5 linked regions of the Homo sapiens genome follow. The protein of the gene in region 1 purifies or fractionates together with the protein of each later gene. This does not show direct contact. Each region holds a gene or a part of one and is shown in the gene's direction. Other genes may lie near its edges. The genes, in order: SETDB2, SENP7, IL1F10, ZNF445 and DHX16.

Evidence for each region.
Region 2: the proteins of SETDB2 (region 1) and SENP7 purify together in Homo sapiens (affinity purification with mass spectrometry; 2 studies listed by BioGRID and IntAct, with this or other methods). This does not show direct contact.
Region 3: the proteins of SETDB2 (region 1) and IL1F10 purify together in Homo sapiens (affinity purification with mass spectrometry; one large-scale study listed by BioGRID and IntAct). This does not show direct contact.
Region 4: the proteins of SETDB2 (region 1) and ZNF445 purify together in Homo sapiens (affinity purification with mass spectrometry; 2 studies listed by BioGRID and IntAct, with this or other methods). This does not show direct contact.
Region 5: the proteins of SETDB2 (region 1) and DHX16 purify together in Homo sapiens (affinity purification with mass spectrometry; 2 studies listed by BioGRID and IntAct, with this or other methods). This does not show direct contact.

What each region holds. Positions count from the first base shown.
Region 1 is NC_000013.11:49,450,768-49,454,286, forward strand, and holds part of SETDB2 (histone-lysine N-methyltransferase SETDB2), read left to right. Parts: intron 1-785; 5' UTR 786-1,126; coding exon 1,127-1,142; intron 1,143-3,519. Other genes in the region: SETDB2-PHF11 protein, read left to right, coding at 1,127-1,142. UniProt on the Homo sapiens protein: Histone methyltransferase involved in left-right axis specification in early development and mitosis. Specifically trimethylates 'Lys-9' of histone H3 (H3K9me3).
Region 2 is NC_000003.12:101,503,210-101,506,728, reverse strand, and holds part of SENP7 (sentrin-specific protease 7), read left to right. Parts: intron 1-3,519. UniProt on the Homo sapiens protein: Protease that acts as a positive regulator of the cGAS-STING pathway by catalyzing desumoylation of CGAS. Desumoylation of CGAS promotes DNA-binding activity of CGAS, subsequent oligomerization and activation.
Region 3 is NC_000002.12:113,070,954-113,073,659, forward strand, and holds part of IL1F10 (interleukin-1 family member 10), read left to right. Parts: intron 1-1,364; exon of another isoform or gene 1,365-1,757; 5' UTR 1,758-1,785; coding exon 1,786-1,817; intron 1,818-2,706. UniProt on the Homo sapiens protein: Cytokine with immunomodulatory activity. Alone, does not induce cytokine production, but reduces IL22 and IL17A production by T-cells in response to heat-killed Candida albicans. Reduces IL36G-induced production of IL8 by peripheral blood mononuclear cells.
Region 4 is NC_000003.12:44,467,652-44,471,170, reverse strand, and holds part of ZNF445 (zinc finger protein 445), read left to right. Parts: intron 1-3,519. UniProt on the Homo sapiens protein: Transcription regulator required to maintain maternal and paternal gene imprinting, a process by which gene expression is restricted in a parent of origin-specific manner by epigenetic modification of genomic DNA and chromatin, including DNA methylation.
Region 5 is NC_000006.12:30,670,207-30,674,253, reverse strand, and holds the start of DHX16 (pre-mRNA-splicing factor ATP-dependent RNA helicase DHX16), read left to right. Parts: upstream 1-1,247; 5' UTR 1,248-1,271; coding exon of another isoform or gene 1,272-1,298; 5' UTR 1,299-1,412; coding exon 1,413-1,619; intron 1,620-2,979; coding exon 2,980-3,218; intron 3,219-3,301; coding exon 3,302-3,464; intron 3,465-3,787; coding exon 3,788-3,844; intron 3,845-4,047. UniProt on the Homo sapiens protein: Required for pre-mRNA splicing as a component of the spliceosome. Contributes to pre-mRNA splicing after spliceosome formation and prior to the first transesterification reaction.

The sequences.
Region 1 (3,519 bases):
ATCTTGAGAATTAAAATTGTTGATCTATTTTTGACCTATTATTCTACCTCCAGATATGTTATCCTAGGGAAATTGCCAGAGATATGTATAAAGTATATTTATTTTAGCATTATTTATTATACTAAAAATTAATCTATAAAGGAAAACAATCTAAATATCGAATATAGAGGTTTATATTATTAATTAATATTTTTATTAAAATTTAATTATTAAAATATTTAATGTACTATAATGTATGCGTTATTGACCAAAGTATGTTATACAGCCAGTTGTATTATACAAAAATATTAGTGATGGAGGAAAATGCAGGAAATGTTTTTAATGAAAGATTATAAAAAATTAAATATACTACAATCCAAATTTTTGTTTTAAAACTACATTCTGAAAGAATAACAATAATTGGTAGTATTCCTTGAATCTTTCGTATGTCAGGCACATTATATGTAATTAAGTCTTGTCCTCAGAACAACCTGTGAGATAGTTAGTATTATCCCCTTTTTAAAAGGTTTATAAAAGACTTATAAAATGGAGATAGTAATATAAATACAAATATATTAAATATGGGTGATAGGATTGGGTGGGCCTTCTCTATTATTTCTAATTTTGATACTTTACATATTTTTTCCAGATAACATAATGTTTTTTTGTAATGGTTCATGCTGTTTTAAAAGATCAAGCTGTTATAACAATATCTTATTTCCTTATATATACATATATATATATATATATATATATATATGTGGTCCTTTACAAATATGCACTATTCTTTATTGTTTTCCTTACAGAATGTTTCATCCATTTGTGGACCAAAAGATGGAGTTGGTTTTTATTTTTAAAAAGATAATGTTAATGATCTGATACCACTACAAATATTTACGTGAGAAGATTCATGGACTTGTCTTTTGGTTGGACTGTCACTCATTTCTGAAAGTTTCTTCAGCCACAATTTCTATTTGAAAATTCAAGTATCAAAGGATACCAGGTTTAGAATGGTATAATGATGTATTTTGTCTGAGGACTGCAAATTTTATAGAGACCACAGTTGGATTCCAGTGATATTCTGCAATCAAAGTGATTTGATAAACCTAATTTTGAAGCATTTTATATTTATAAGCGACATCAAAAGATGGGAGAAAAAAATGGTAGGTTGAAGAACACACTGTTACACTTTATATCTAAAAGTATAAAAGTATATAGACAATGTAAGCTGATGTGGAATTGTCAAGGTTTTGCATTGCGAGGAACTTTTCTGAATTAGAGGGAATTAAGGGTTTATTCTTGTATAGCCACCAATTTTGACTGTCTTTATCATTAGTTGTGAAAAAATTGACTTTTTTGTAAACTTTTTTTTTTTTCTTTTTTTTTGGTGATGGAGTCTCTGTCGCCCAGGCTGTAGTGCAGTAGCACAATCTTGGCTCACTGCAACCTCTGCCTCCTGGGATCAAGCGATTCTCCTGCCACAGCCTCCTGAGTAGCTGGGATTACAGGCATGTGCCACCATGCCCAGCTAATTTTTTGTATTTTTAGTAGAGATGGGGTTTCACCATGTTGGTCAGGCTGGTCTCAAACTCCTGACCTCATGATCTGTCCACCTTGGCCTCCCAAAGTGCTAGGATTACAGCACTTGCACCTGGCCAAAATAGGTGAGCCACTGCACCTGGCCAAAATACTTTTAGTGTTACAGAAAAATTGAGAGGATTGCAGAGTTCCAGTAAACCTGGTACTTAGCTTTATCTATGATTAACATTTTACATTTGGATGCTACATTTGTTACAATTAATGAACCAATATTGGCACATTATTATTAACTGAAGTCCATAGTATATTCACGTTAGTTTTTACCTGATGTCTTTTTCCATTCCAAGATCCCATCCAGGACACCACATTCCATTTACTTGTCATGTCTGCTTAGGCTCCTCCTAGCTGTGATAGTTTCTGAGACTTTTCTTGTTTTTTATTTTTTTGGGATTTTGTATCCAAATATTTTGTAAGATGCCCCTCTGTTGGAATTATTGTCTGATGTTTTTCCATAATTTGACTGGAGCGATGGGTTTTGGGGAGTGTGATCTCAGAGGTAAAATGTCATTTTCATCACATCATATCAAGGGTACATGCTGTCAGCATGATTTCTCAGAGTTGATATTGAACTTGATCAACAGAGCTTGAGCTGGCTAATGTAGGTGGTGGTATCAAATTTCTCCACTGTAAAGTTACTCTTTTTCTCCCATTCCCTGCTATACTCTTCGGAAATAAATCACTATAGGTAGCCCACAGTTAAGGAGTGGGGATTTATGCTCCCCCTCCTTAAATGTGGAATATCTACGTTAATTATATTTGGAATATTTCTGCAGGGGAGATTTATCTCTCTCTCTTCTTCCCTGTTTATTTATTCAGTTAATCATTTATATCAGCATGGACTCATGGCTATTTATTTTATACTTTTTGAGTTACAAGCCAGTACTACTTTATTTATTTTGTTTTTCAAATTGTCCCGGGTTTGGCTATTGGGAGCTCTTTCAGTTGGCTCTTTTTTTTCTTTTTTTTTTTAAGATGGCGTCTCACTCTGTTGCCCAGGTTCATGTGCAGCAGCGCAATCTTGGCTCACTGCAACCTCTGCCTCCTGGGTTCAAGCAATTCTCTTGCCTCAGCCTCCTGAGTAGCTAGGATTACAGGTGTGTGCCGCCACGCCCAGCTAATTTTTGTATTTTTAGTAGAGATGGGGGTTTCACCATATTGGCCAGGCTGGTCTCGAACTCCTGACCTCAAGTGATCCACCCGCCTTAGCCTCCCAAAGCGCTGGGATTACAGGCATGAACCACCATGTCCTGCTCAGTTGGCTCTTGTGTCCCTTTGATATACCGTCATCAGTGTAGGTATTTTTTATTTGTCTTTGTTTTATAGCACTTCCCTTTTGGCACTCGAAGATTGCTCTAGATTGCTCTCGTATATTTCTTACGCATCTTAGAGTGAGCCATTTCTTGAATAACCTGTCAATATTTTTATTGGAAAATGGTATTAGAAACCAAGGTCTGAATGATAGGTGTATTTGTTGTTACTGGAGTGTCCTTGTTTATAGGCCCTTTCAGCTGGCAGAGCAATGAAGTATATATATATATACTAACTTATATATACACAACTCATGGCTATAAATATTTCTATATGTAACTGTTTGTATCTGCCTTAAGCTAACCATGAAATTACGCTGATGTTTCCAACTCTAATCTATTACCACGTGGATCATTTTAGTCTCCTCACCTTATCTGTATGCTCCCACTCCAGTAGTAAAAAACTTAGTTCCCATCACCCACCATCCATTTACTTAATTGTTCAATTCCAGTATATATATGTAGCAGTATCAGAATTGTTAACCCTTGACTGGGCACCGTGGCTTATACCTATAATCCCAGCACTTTGAAAGGCCGAGGCCAGGAGTTAGACCAGCCTGGTAAACATGGCAAAATCCTGTCTCTACTTAAAAAAAAATAATAATAGTAATACAAAGTGGCACACGCCTATATG
Region 2 (3,519 bases), on another chromosome or scaffold:
ATTAATTCAAACTTAAATTTATGCCTGTTTCTGCACTTCTGTTGGTCTTTATGCCTCTTATATGATAATTATCAGATTCCATCATATATTCTAGCTTGCTGAGTTGTCTAATGTCTACTTCTATACTATTAACACTGTGACAGGGACTGTCATTAATTTTATTTCCCCATAGCATCCAGTATGCCTAGAGTGTACTGGTTTAGAGTACCATCTCTGGAATATGACCGGTGATGGATCACTATGGTAACGTTGGGCAAGTTATTTGGATTCCTCAAATCTTAATTTCTTAATCTATAAGATGGAGATTATACATTATTGATTTCATGATATAAGGATTAAGGAAAATAATTTGTGTAAAGCACTTAGCATAATTCCAGGCAATGATAATTACTATTATGTCAAATAAATAGGCTGGGTGCTGTGGCCCATGCCTGTAATCCCAGCACTTTGGGAGGCCAAGGTGGGCAGATCACTTGAGCTCAGGAGTTCGAGACCAGCCTGGCCAATATGGTGAAACTCTCTCTCTACTAAACATAAAAAATTAGCCAGGCATGGTGCTTCCTGCCTGTAGTCCCAGGTACTGGGGAGGCTGAAGCGGGAGAATCGCTTGAACCTGGGAGGTGGAGGTTGCAGTGAGCCGAGATCGTGCCACTGCACTCCAGCGTGGGTGACAGAGCAAGACTCCGTCTCAAAAAAAAAAAAAAAAAATTATGGAATAAATAAGTGAATGAGTGGGAAAAGTTATGCTTTTAGTTTTTTGACTCATATATTTAGAATGAGAGTAATTGGAGAGATTTTCCTATATGCTAATGCTAATATACTACAGTCTTTTAAAGGGAGATACTTGACTATAAAATGTTATAGTTACCATTTCTTTTGCACTAACTATGTGTTAGTCATAATGCTAAATGCCTTAATATGGACTATCATGCTTTAATCTGAACGATTAAAAAGGCAGATATTCTCCGCCATTTTACAGATGAGAAACTGAGACTCAGAGAAGTCACAACTAGTAAGCCGAGATACAAATTTAGGTTGTCTAGCTTTAAAATATGTACTCTTGAGCATGGTAACTATACCATACAGTCTCAAGTCGAGGCACATCATATGCTTATTTAAACACTCCAGAGCTAACCTGGTATAAGATGGAGCAAGTCAGCTATAAAAAAATTGTAAATTTTTTTATTAGACAAAGTTGGCCAAGAAGAAAAAAACATAAATATTTGGGAATTCACAGTAGCATTAATGAAAGGAAATAGGGGAACATACTACAAAACAGGATGGAAGCACTTTTAACCCAGTGAGACATTTTTGGGATATAAATTTGTAAATTAAAATTTAAGAAACTGACATTCCTTTTAAAATGACATGTACTTTTTTATTTGTATAAATTTAAGGGTTACAAGTACAGCTTTGTTATATGGGTATATTGTGTGGTGGTGAAATCTGGGCTTTTAGTGTAATCATCACCTGAATAGTGTACATTGTACCCATTAAGTAATTTCTTATCCCTCACTGCACTGCTCCTAGCCTTCCAAGTCTTCAATGACTGTTATTCCACACTCTATGTCCATGTGTATACACATTATTTAGCCCCTACTTATAGTGAGAATATGTGGTATTTGACTTTCTGAGTTCTTTTTTTTTCTTTTTTCTTTTTCTTTTTGAAATGGTTTCGCTCTGTCGTCCAGACTGGAGTGCAGTGGTGCAAAAACGGCCCACTGCAGCCTCGACCTCCTGGGCTCAAGCGATTCTCCACATGCCTCACTGCAGCCTTGACCTCCTGGGCTCAAGCGATTTTCCCACCTCAGCCTCCCAAGCAGCTGAGACCACAGGTGGTGTCACTGTACCTAGCTAATTCAAATAAATATTTTTAGAGACAGGGTCTCACCATGTGGTGCAGGCTGGTCCCAAACTCCTGGGCTCAAGCAGTCATCCTGCCTTGGCCTCCCAAAGTGTTGGGATTATAGGTGTGAGCTTCTAATCTGAGTTGTTTCACTGAAGATGAAGGTCTCCAGTTCTGTGTTACTGTAAAAGACGTGAGTTCATTCCTTTTTCATTCCGGAATAGTATTCCATTGTGTATATGTAGATATGTGTTTTGTTAAATTTAAAATTGACTAGAAAATGAATTTCTACAGGATACTTTCTTATCACTTATTTAAAAAATTCTTTATTTTTGGTAGTCAACTTGAGTACTAGTTTATTTAAATTATTTGAAGTTATCAAAAGCTTAAGTGTAGAGGTGAAAATAATTTTTTTTTTTTTTTGAGATGGAATTTTGCCCTCGTTGCCTAGGATGGAGTGCAATGGTGTGATCTTGGCTCACTGCAACCTCTGCCTCCTGGGTTTGAGCGATTTTCCTGTCTCAGCCTCCTGAGTAGCTGGGATTATAGGCACCTGCCACTACACCCAGCTAATTTTTTTTTTTTTGTATTTTTAATAGAGACGGGTTTCCCCATGTTGACCAGGCTGGTCTCGAACTCCTGACCTCAAGTGATCCAACCACCTCGGCCTCCCATTAGTGCTGGGATTACAGGCATCAGCCACCGCGCCTGGCCCAAAAATAATTTTTTAGATCAGGAAAACATTACATGGTTTCTCAGCAAGTGCATGTAGTGAAACTAATGCTGTGTATTATGAACTTAGAAGAAATCATTTCAGCAATATAGATTTCTGGGTAGTCTATATTTCATTAGTTATTATTATTATTTCTGATTTTAAGTACCATACAGTACACATATCTTTAGTGTATAGTTCAGTGACTTTTTTTTTTTTTAATTTGAGACAGTGTCTTGCTCTGTTGCCCAGGCTGGAGTGCAGTGGTGCCATCATGGCTCACTGCAGCCTCAACTGCCTGGTTCAAGTGATCTTCCCACCTCAGCCTACTGAGTAGCTGGGAGTGCAGGTGCACACCACCACACTCAGCTAATTTTTGTACTTTTTTATGCAGACGGGGTTTCACCCTTTTGCCCAGGCTGTTCTCAAACTCCTGAGCTCAAGCGATCTACCCACCTCAGCCTCCCAAACTGCTGGGATTACAGGCATGTGCCACCATGCCTGGCCCCCATCACTGTTTTAACTAGTGTTACCATAGGTTTATTTTAACTCTTCTTGAATTTCTGAGAAATAGAATCATATACTCTTCTGCATCTGGTTTCCTTTGAGCATGCCTGAGAAATGTATCCATATTGTGCGTAGCAGTAATTCATTATCTTTTATTGCTATACAGTTTTCCATTATATGAATATGTTTATCCATACTTGATGGATATTTGGGTTGTTTCCAGTTTTTGGATATTAAGAACAAAAATACCTGAATATTCTTATTTCTGTTGGTTATTTATCTAAAAGTGTAATTGTTGGACATTGCATAGGCAGGTGTCTAACTTCAGTAGATGCTGGTGAAGCAGATGTACTCATTTACACTCTTAGCAAGAGTATATGAGTTCCAGTCTCTCACCAATATTTGGTGTTGTCAATCTTTTTACTTTTACCCATTCTAAAGGCTGTTTAATGGT
Region 3 (2,706 bases), on another chromosome or scaffold:
AGGTGATGCAGATGGGCAGGCACATTTAGGAGCCAATGACTTTAACTGAACACTTCATTTAAAAAATGTTGAAACTTACTTGATACTACAAAGGAAATTCATGTTCATTATAGGAAAATGTTGATATGTTTAAAAAATTACTCATAAAGCCATAGGTAAGTGGTGCAACAACACGAGTAACATTTCTATGTATGTGTCTCTATGTGTGGATTTAAATAGAATTACAGTGTACACTTGATTTATAATCTGCATTTTTCACCTAATATATTTTGAAAATTTTTATGTCCTAAAACAAGCTTCTATAATATCATCTTTAACAAACACATACATCCTTATTTATTGAATTTTGCTATAATTTCTTAGCCAATTACCTATTACTGAAAATTCAGATTTTTTTCAACTTCTTGCTATTGTAAAAAATTATGCAGTGAACATTTTTGTAAGTAAACATTTGGGCAATCCGTTATTTTTCCTAAGAGTAAGGGAAACACATGCAATCACAAAGTATACAGAATGCTTTAAGACTTTCATTCACAGCACCAACATCCCTCCAGAATTTGCACTTGTTAGTCCCTATTATCCTTCACTCTAAGTCTCAAAGTCATACCCCAAGGCCTGGGGACAGAAAATGACTTGTCCAAAGTGACAGTGACAGACCCAGTACTAAAAGCCACCTTGGCTACAGCCCTGTTTCTGGAACTTGAGAGCTGAGGTGGTTGGAAGCCGTATCCTCAGCACCCACCTGTTCCTTCTCACCTGCCTCCCCAGGGTCCCTCAGCATCTCTCTATTCCTCCCTGAGCCCTATTACTTTCTTCCACCTGCCTTCTTCCTTTCTCTTCTCTCATTTTCTGCTTTCTTATATTTTTTCTTCTCTATTCCCTTCTTATTTGGTGAGAATCAGATCTACTCGGTAAACCTCAGCCCTAGTCATACTTGCGTTACTTTCCTGAGCTAATTTCCAACTCCTGATTAGCTCTGGGTTTATTTCCATGCTAAATTCTGGACTGGCCTTTCCAATGGGTGTTCATTTTAGGGAAGAGCTCTAGGACAGGATAACCCATCGGGAAGGAGCAGAGTCATGTGAGGCTGTGTGGCCTGGCATTTATACAGGGCCACTATCTTCACTGTGCCATTTTCCATCTGGAACAGAATGGGGGAGTTTGGATGGGCTGTTTTCGGCAGTCTTGGCCAAGCACTTCTAGTCACTAGGAATGATGTTTTCCAACTCTCTGGGGAGACCCCACCAGCCTCACTGCTGCTGGAGACCCCTTCTAGTTGTGCTCTCTTCTTTCACTCTGGGCTCTAGTTATCTAACCCTTGGCTAGTTATGGGGGCGGGGGTGTGGTGCCCTGTTGGCCAACAGGGCAGTGGGACTGGGTTTGAGCTGGGCTTATCCTCCAACTGTGAGGGAGGCTACAGCACACTCCACCCCACTCTCAGGGCTGGGAATTGTTGTGGCTCAGCTATTTGGGGGAATCTGTTTTCCAGTTTCTCAGAACCAGCGCAAGCACACACATCCCAGGCTCACACCCCTGGTGGCTGGACTTGCTCCCGGATAGCCTCAGTCAGGGAGAGGCAGAGCTGCCTGGAGCCTGCTGGGCTGGTGGAAGCCTTGGTGGATTCTGGCAGGCCAATTATAGACGAATGGCCTGGGGAACCCGTGCAGCCCTTGGCTGAGTGGTTCTAAGCCCCAGCACGTCTGCCTCTGGCTTCACCCAGCCTCCTTTTCTAACTGCCCTTCTCTCCTCCCCATCAGTGAGGACCAGACACCACTGATTGCAGGAATGTGTTCCCTCCCCATGGCAAGATACTACATGTAAGTTGTCCTGGCATGTCCCTGCTTTCCAAGCCAGGGGGTCAGGGTGGGAAGAGGAAAGGAATGCTGAGTCAGAGGATGAGGCTCCTTCTCACCTTAGAAATTGCAAGTGCCCCATAATTAAGCTTCATCATCACCACAGTAGCAACAGCTCTTTCCTGAACGTCTGCAAGATGCCAGCCAATCTACTGCCTCATCTCTGTTCCAAAAAGTCTGTAAGTGGAGTGTTATTAAACCCATTTTACAGATCTGGAAGCTGAGGCTCAAAGAGGGTAAATAACTTCCCCCATGTCACACAGCTACCAAAAGGCAGAGCCAGGAATCAGACTTCATGTCCTCTGTGCTGCTCCATCCGCCTCTCTGAAATGTCAGAAAGTTTTGAATCTCAATGACAGCATCTTGATGGTGGTCCCTGTGGCCTTTACTCCCAGTGTGGGCTTCTAACACTTACTTACATTTCATCTCATTTGAGATTTGCATCCTTCCTTATCTTTTACTACTTTGTTGTCTGTGATTTTGTCATAAGCTCCTTTCAGGAAGGAGGTGAGGCATAAGAAAAATCAAAGAGGACTCTGGGATGCATTTCCTCTGCCCCTCCCATGGACCCTGTAATGTCCAGGGCTGTGTCCTGGACAAGGTGGGTGGGGAGCAGTCCTGGTCTCAAGGAGGTGACAGCCTGGCTGGGAAGCAAGACACATACATAGGAAGCACATAAATGACAAAGCAGATGTCAGCACTTCAGGGCATCTAATCTGGGTTCTGGTCTCCAAATAGAATGCTGCTGGCATGTGAGTTGTCACATCTGGGTTGTCAAGGTGGCAAGGGGAATGCCAGATAACACGCCCAGGATCTTTCCGGAAGTTTATTTTTATTGTACAAGTGAACCTGC
Region 4 (3,519 bases), on another chromosome or scaffold:
TTCTGGATGCAGGTGATCTGTACAGAGTCAGCTGATCCTGTGTCTGTGGAACATTAATGGCAGCACTGCTTGTATTTCTCTTTTTCTTCAACTTTTATTTTTTTTCTTCCATTGTTGCTGGCTACTCCTTTTCTTTGTTTCTGTTTTCTTTCTGGATAGGTTTTTTATTTTTGTTTTGCATGTTGTGTTTTGGTAGCATTTTGCTCTTCTTGTTCTCTACCTCACTTGCCTGTTTTTTTTTCTCCTTACATCTGTTCAACTGGAGAACATCCTTTTGTAGTTGCTTGAGCTGAAGCCATGGTTTGTACTCAAGTCCCCCCTCAAGAATGTGCTGTCCCTTCTACTGTGCATCTGCCATCTTCAATCCTACGAGTTGCTACTCAATTGCTTTGCTTCTTAAGAGAATTATTGATCACTTTGCTGTTTATAAATGTAATGGGTAACAATTTAGGCAACATAGGCAAATAAGGAAGGAGAGCCCTTTCATCCCACCTCCCAGAGGAAATCATGGCTAAAAATACTTTGGTAGTGAGGCTTAGGAGCTTTTATGTGCATATGTAAACTGCTTTGCTTTTCATTTGCTTTAAGACATAAATGACAGTATAACTATGCTTTCTAATAATTGCTTTTCAATTTTCTTTTCTTTTAGGAAATAGAAGACAAAAAAAATATAAAGTTGCTTTTAAATGCAATTCTCTACCTTCCTACCCCCACCACCAGTAAGAGTTTTTGTGAATCCTTCCAGGCTTTTAAAATTTCTTTGAGTAGTTATAGGTACATTCACATACATGCGTATACAGTCACACACACACACGGTTGTACGTTTTGTTTTCACAATTCGTATTTAGGATGTGCTTTCAAACTTAGCACATATTTTTGTTATTGTTGGGAAAAGCAGTCGTGCACAGTTTCTCTCTCCTTACTTGGCTGTGTAGGAGTGTCCTTGGACGCCAGGCATTGTGGCTCATGCCTGTAATCCCAGTGCTTTGGGAGGCCAAGTCAGGAGGCTCTCTTGAAGCCAGGAGTTTGAGACTGGCCTGGGCAACATAGTGAGACCCTATCGCTAAAAAAAAGTCAGGCAGAGTGAGGGTGGCACATGTCTGTAGTCTCAGCTATTCAGGAGGTTGAGGTGGGAGGATCACTTGAACCCAGGAGTTTGAGGCTGCAGTGAGCTGTGATCGTGCTACTGCACTCCAGCCTGGATGACAGAGTGAGAAAAAAGAGTGGCCTCGGGCCTGAGACATTTCCTTACAAGAGCGAAAGAGTCCTCACAACCTTTGCTGGGTTTAACATCTTGTGACTGTAGGTGTCACATCTTGTGAGGGACTATCTTGTTTTTCTGCACTTGATGTACTCCTTTGTTTTGTTTGTTTTGTTTTGTTTTGTTTTTGTTTTTGTTTTTGAGATGGAGTTTTGCTTTGTCACCCAGGCTGGAGTGCAGTGGCACGATCTTGGCTCACTGCAACCTCTGCCTCCTGGGTTCAAGTGGTTCTCCTGCCTCAGCCTCCTGAGTAGCTGGGATTACAGCTGTACGTCTCCACGCCTGGCTAATTTTTGTATTTTTAATAGAGATGGGGTTTCGCCATGTTTGCCAGGCTGTTCTCAAACTCCTGACCTCAGGTAATGTGCCAGCCTTAGCCTCCCAAAGTGCTGGGATTACAGGTGCAAGCCACCATGCCAGGCCTCCTTTGTTCTGTTTCTGAGTGCATGAATCAGCAGCCGTCATGCATGTTCCTATCTTTCTTCATTTCAGACCCCACAGAGGAGGGGTTAAGGTCTTTCTACTGCAATATGAAGCGTGTATACACACACCACCTGTGTAGACTGTGGAGTGGTTCTGCTGGCCACGAGGGACCAACACATTGCAAGTGGCTGGATCTTGTGAACCCTCCATCTCCATAAGTAAACATTGTACCTCTTGAGCTTGGTGGGGGTGGTGTCTTTTCTCAGTGACCTCAAGTCATACACTGTCTCTTCCTTGGGTGACACCTAGTTGCCTTGTAACTTTGGCTACAGAGCCTTATCACCTGGTGTACAGTAAAGCAGTTATGTTGATGTATAACAATTCTAGTACATTCCTTTTAGGTGTGTGAGTATTTCATCCTATAAAATGCTTTTTTTTTTTTTTTTTGAGACAGACTCTCACTATCCTCCCAAAATACTGGAATTACAGGCATGAGTCACTGCACCTGGCCAAATGCTACACTTTTATAACCTCCCAAGAGGTTCACCTTGCCTGCTGCCTAGACAGAGCTGATTCAAGATGGGAATTGCAATAGAGAAAGAGTAATTCACGCAGAGCCGGCTGTGTGGGAGACTGGGGTTTTATTATTACTCAAAGCAGTCTCCCCCAGCATTTGCGGAGCAAAGTTTTTAAGGATAACTTGGTGGGTTGGGGGAAGCCAGTGAGCCAGGAGTGCTGATTGGTCAGAGATGAAATCATAGCGAGTCACAGCTGTCGTCTTGTGCTGAGTCAGCTCCTCGGGGGGAGGGGGTGGAGGGGTGGGGGCGGGCCACAAGATCAGATGAGCCAGTTTATTGATCTGGGTTGTGCCAGCTAATCCATCAAGTGCAGGGGCTGCAAAATACCTCAAGCACTGATCTTAGGAGCAGTTTAGGGAGGGTCAGAATCTTGTAACCTCCAGCTGCATGACTCCTAAACCATAATTTCTAATCTTGTGGCTAATGTTAGTCCCGCAAAGGCAATCTAGTCTCCAGGCAAGAAGGAGATCTGCTTTGGGAAAGATCTGTTACTGTCTTTATTTAAACTATAAACTGTAAGTTTCTCCCAAAGTTAGTTCAGCCTGTGCCCAGGAATGAACAAGGACAGCTTGGAGGTTAGAAGCAAGATGGAGTTAGTTAAGTTAGATCTCTTTCACTGTCTCAGTCATAATTTTGCAATGACAGTTTCAGTCCCTCCCTTTGGATTTTATAACACCTTAATAAGGTGTAAGTTATGAAGGTGGGAAAAGGCTGTTGATTGCTCTGGCTTCTTCCTCCTGACAGGGGACATAGTGGGAATGGGAGTGAACCCCAGCGTGAGAAGAGTGGAACTGCTTTGCAACTGTCTGAGTGTACTCACGCAGGCTTGGCCAGGCGTTCATGGCTTGCATGGCTAGAACATTAGTATTTTCATCTGTAATTTTACTGCAGTATTTAAGTGAAACAGCCTACTATAAGGTAAATAATGAGTCCTAGGATGAGGAGTACAATTCCCAATTTTAAAAGCAAAGATTTGAAAGTATTAGTTTGGGGACTTCTAACCCACAAAGAATTTAGAATTTTGTTTAAACTGCAGAAAAAAACCCTCAAGAACAGCTACAATATTGTACTATAGTTTTTCTTTTGAAGCATAATTTTCTCTCTCCAATCCCCATTTTTATTAAAAACAAATCATGATAGGACTGATTTGTTTACAAAATAAACTTTAGCCTTACTGTGCTTGGCCTGATTATTTGCATAAAGTGCAGCAAGAATAATTATTTTTCACTTAGGCTTTTTAAGTTGGTTTTGATAGAA
Region 5 (4,047 bases), on another chromosome or scaffold:
CAGGAGGCTGAGGCAGGAGAATCACTTGAACCTGGGAGGCGGAAGTTGCAGTGAGCCGAGATCGTGCCATTGCACTCCAGTCTGGGCAACAGAGCGAGACTCTGTCTCCAAAAAAAAAAAAAAAAATTCTCCTGTCTCAGTCTCCAGAGTAGCTGGGACTACAGGTGCACACCTCCACACCTGGCTAATTTTTTGTAGAGATGGTGGGGTCTCACCCTGTTGCCCAGGCTGGTCTCAAACCCCTGGTCTCAAGATATCCTCCTGCCTCAGCCTCCCAAAGTGCTGGGATTACAGCAAGAGCCACTGCACCTGGCCTTGCTTACTTTTAAATAAGCAGCCACCAGTGATTTTCTCAAGCTGTTAAGCAAAAATGCAGAACACAGTTTGCCTGTTCCTTAGTTTGGAGATTTTGTCTTTAACAACTTTCCCCAGTTCCCCAGTTTCTTCCTGCCTAGAGGTCTTCCCTTATACCTGACCTGTCTTCACTCCTGCTGCAGGCAAACCAGTCCTAGCAACGGTCACTTTTTTGTTTGTTTGAGACAGAGACTTCCTCTGTTGCTCAGGCTGGAGTGCCGTGGTGGGATCTCGGCTCACTGCAAACTCTGCTTCCCATGTTCAAATGATTCTCCTGCCTCAGCCTCCCGAGTGGCTGGGACTACAGGCGCACACCACCACGCCAGGCTAATTTTTATATTTTTAGTAGAGACAGGGTTTCGCCATCTTGGCCAGGCTGGTCTCGAACTCCTGACCTCAGATAATCCGCCCGCCTTGGCCTCCCAAAGTGCTGGGATTACAGGCATGAGCCACCGCGCCCGGCCAACAATGCTAATATGTTTTATGAGCATGGACCCGATCTTCCAATCTGAAATAGAATTTCATTCCTCCCTTACTTTGTATAGTTTTTGGCTCTATAAAATTTCCATACTTTCTTTATTATGTATCCTGTCCCTCCCCCACCGCAAAATGTAAATTTGGTAAGGAACTTTTGATTTGTCCTCTGCTATATCCCAGGGACGGAAAGCAATGAGCACACATTAGGCATCCATTAAATTAATTTCACTTGTTGAATGAATGCGTGAGCGAAGCACTCACAGACTGACCATCAGGGGGCGTCAGAGAAACTGGACAGAGGCGAAATGAAGAAAAAAGAATTACCCCGAGTTTTCAGGTATGGTTCCGCGAGGTTTGAACTCGCTCGGCCACCGTAGTGCTTAGAGGCCGAAAAAGTACAGCCCCTTCCGGGCTCCGCGGTACGGGAAGACAGCTTTGGGATGTCGGAAGATCCTAGAGGTCCCAAGGTAGCTGACTTGCGAAGCTGAGGCTCCAGCCGAGGGCTCCAGGCCTCTGACCGGCCCAGCAGTGAGCGCGGCTGCCCGACGCTTCAGGGCCGGGAGCAGGGAGCGTGAGTCGCCATGGCGACGCCGGCGGGTCTGGAGCGCTGGGTTCAGGACGAGCTGCACTCGGTGTTGGGGCTGAGCGAGCGGCACGTCGCCCAGTTTCTGATCGGTACCGCACAGCGCTGCACCTCTGCCGAGGAGTTCGTGCAGCGCCTACGAGACACTGATACCTTGGATCTCAGTGGGCCGGCCCGGGACTTCGCCCTGAGACTCTGGAACAAGGTGTCGGCAGGGGTGGGGAGGGGCCCTGTGATTTGTCCCGGTGAGGCTGGCCTAACGGTCCATCGAGAAGTTAAGAAAGCTCAGTTCACAAGCACTTATTCTTTGTCCGTTGTCGCGTAGGTACTGTGCTAGCTGCTGGACGCCCAGCTCAGTGGAGAAGATTGAGGAGGGCTTAGGTGTGTCGGGTTAAGCGCAATAGAACGGTGTTTCTCGAACTCTTAACATGCATCCAAGGTTCTTGTTAAAATGCAGATTGCGATTCAGTAGGGATCTTAGTTTCTGCATTTCTTTCTTTCTTTTTTTTTTTTTTGAGAGACACAGTCTCGCTCGCCCCGTCGCCCAGGCTGGAGTGCGGTCGTAAGATCACGGCTCACTACAGCGTCGACCTCCCTGGTTGAAGCGACCCTCCCACCTCATCTTCCCCGGTAGCTGGGACTACGGGCGCGCGCCACCACCCCCGGCTAATATCTTTTATTTTTATTTTTATTTTTAGAGATGAGGCCTTGGTGTGTTGCGCAGGCTGGTCTCTAACTCCTCAGCTCAAGCAATCCTCTCTCAGCCCCCTCAGAGTGCTGAGATTACAGGCGTGAGCCACCATGCCCGGCCCCCCTCATCTTCTGAACTTCCTTTCAGTCGTTTAATTAACAGAGGGGGCCGGGTGCAGTGGCTCACACCTGTAATCCCAGCACCCCGGGAGGCTGAGGCAGGAGGATTACTTGAGCCCAGGAGTTCGAGACCAGCCTGGGCAACATGGCGAAACCTTCGTCCTACAAAAAAATTAAAAATTAGTTGAGCGTGGTAGTGTGCACCTGTGTTTCTAGCTACTTAGGAGCCTGAGGTGGGAGGATCCCTTGAGCCCAAGAGGGACAGAGTGAAACCCTGTCTGTAAAAAAAAATAAAAAACCCCATTCAGGATGATGAAGATGGGGTGAAGCCATGAGGAAGAAAGAGAATGAATGCTGGTTAGCTGGTTTAAAACTAAGTAATTGTGCCCGGGTGTGGTGGCTCATGCCTGTAATCCCAGCACTTTGGGAGGCTGAGGTGAGTGGATCATGAGGTCAGGAGTTTGAGACCAGCCTGGCCAACATGGTGAAACCTCATCTCTACTAAAAATACAAAAATAGTCGGGCGTGGTGGCATGTGCCTGTAATCTCAGCTACTTGGGAGGCTGAGGCAGGAGAATTGCTTGAACCTGGGAGGCGGAGGTTGAAGTGAGCCGAGATCACGCCATTGCCTGACAGTGGGGCCGGGCCGCGGGGGCAGGAAAGACTAAGTAATTGCTTAAATTAGGAACAGAGCTAAGTGGGAGGGCAGAGATCAGGAGTTGCTCAGACCTCCTTATCTTCCCCTCTACTGACAGGTACCACGAAAGGCAGTGGTAGAAAAGCCAGCTCGGGCAGCAGAGCGAGAGGCCCGGGCCCTGCTGGAGAAGAACCGATCTTATAGGTTACTGGAAGACAGTGAAGAGAGCAGTGAGGAGACTGTGAGTAGGGCTGGAAGCAGCCTCCAGAAGAAACGTAAAAAGCGGAAACACCTCAGGAAGAAGCGTGAGGAAGAAGAGGAGGAAGAGGCTTCTGAGAAAGGGAAGAAGAAAACAGGGTAAGTCAGAAGCAGGGTGAGAGAGGATGGGGCAGGCTGAAGTGTTCTCTATGCCCTTATTTAATCCCCTGGATGGGCTGCAGGGGGAGTAAACAGCAGACAGAGAAGCCAGAGTCGGAAGATGAGTGGGAACGGACAGAGCGTGAACGCCTTCAGGACCTGGAGGAGCGTGATGCCTTTGCTGAGCGGGTTCGACAGCGGGACAAGGATCGGACTCGAAATGTCCTGGAACGGTCAGACAAGAAGGTGAATAGGAGCAGCATGTTCTGTAAATCCCCAAGATCCCAGGGTGAAATCTGAGGTTGGCTGTGAGTGCAGAGATAGTGATCTCTGGGAAGACAAGGGGCTGTCTCTAGTGAGATGTTCACCTCTGTGGTGAGAGAAGCCCTGTGCATCCTGTGGCTAAGACAACTGTCTGCTGTACCTGCAATCAGAGAGATTCCTCACTGAGAGGGGACATTTTTTGTGTTAGGGCGCATCTGAATGATCCTTGTGATTCTAGAGGGGAGCAGCTGTCAGTGTGGGGGCTCTTTGGCCTCACACCCCTCCATTCTTGTTTTTTCTTCTAGGCTTATGAAGAGGCTCAGAAGCGCCTCAAGATGGCCGAGGAAGACCGGAAGGCCATGGTGAGTCCCAGGGCCTAGGGAGCCAAGATCAGAAGACAAAAGGAAAGACTTTCTGATAGAGTGTATAGGGAGAGAGGATACAGAGGAAGCACAGTGTGGATGCTGATGGGGTGGTCAGGTTTCTAGAAGAGGGGCTTGGTTGTTAGGAGCCAGCTGAGGATAGACTTATGTTGTTGAGGGAAGGATCCTTCTTAAGTTGTAGG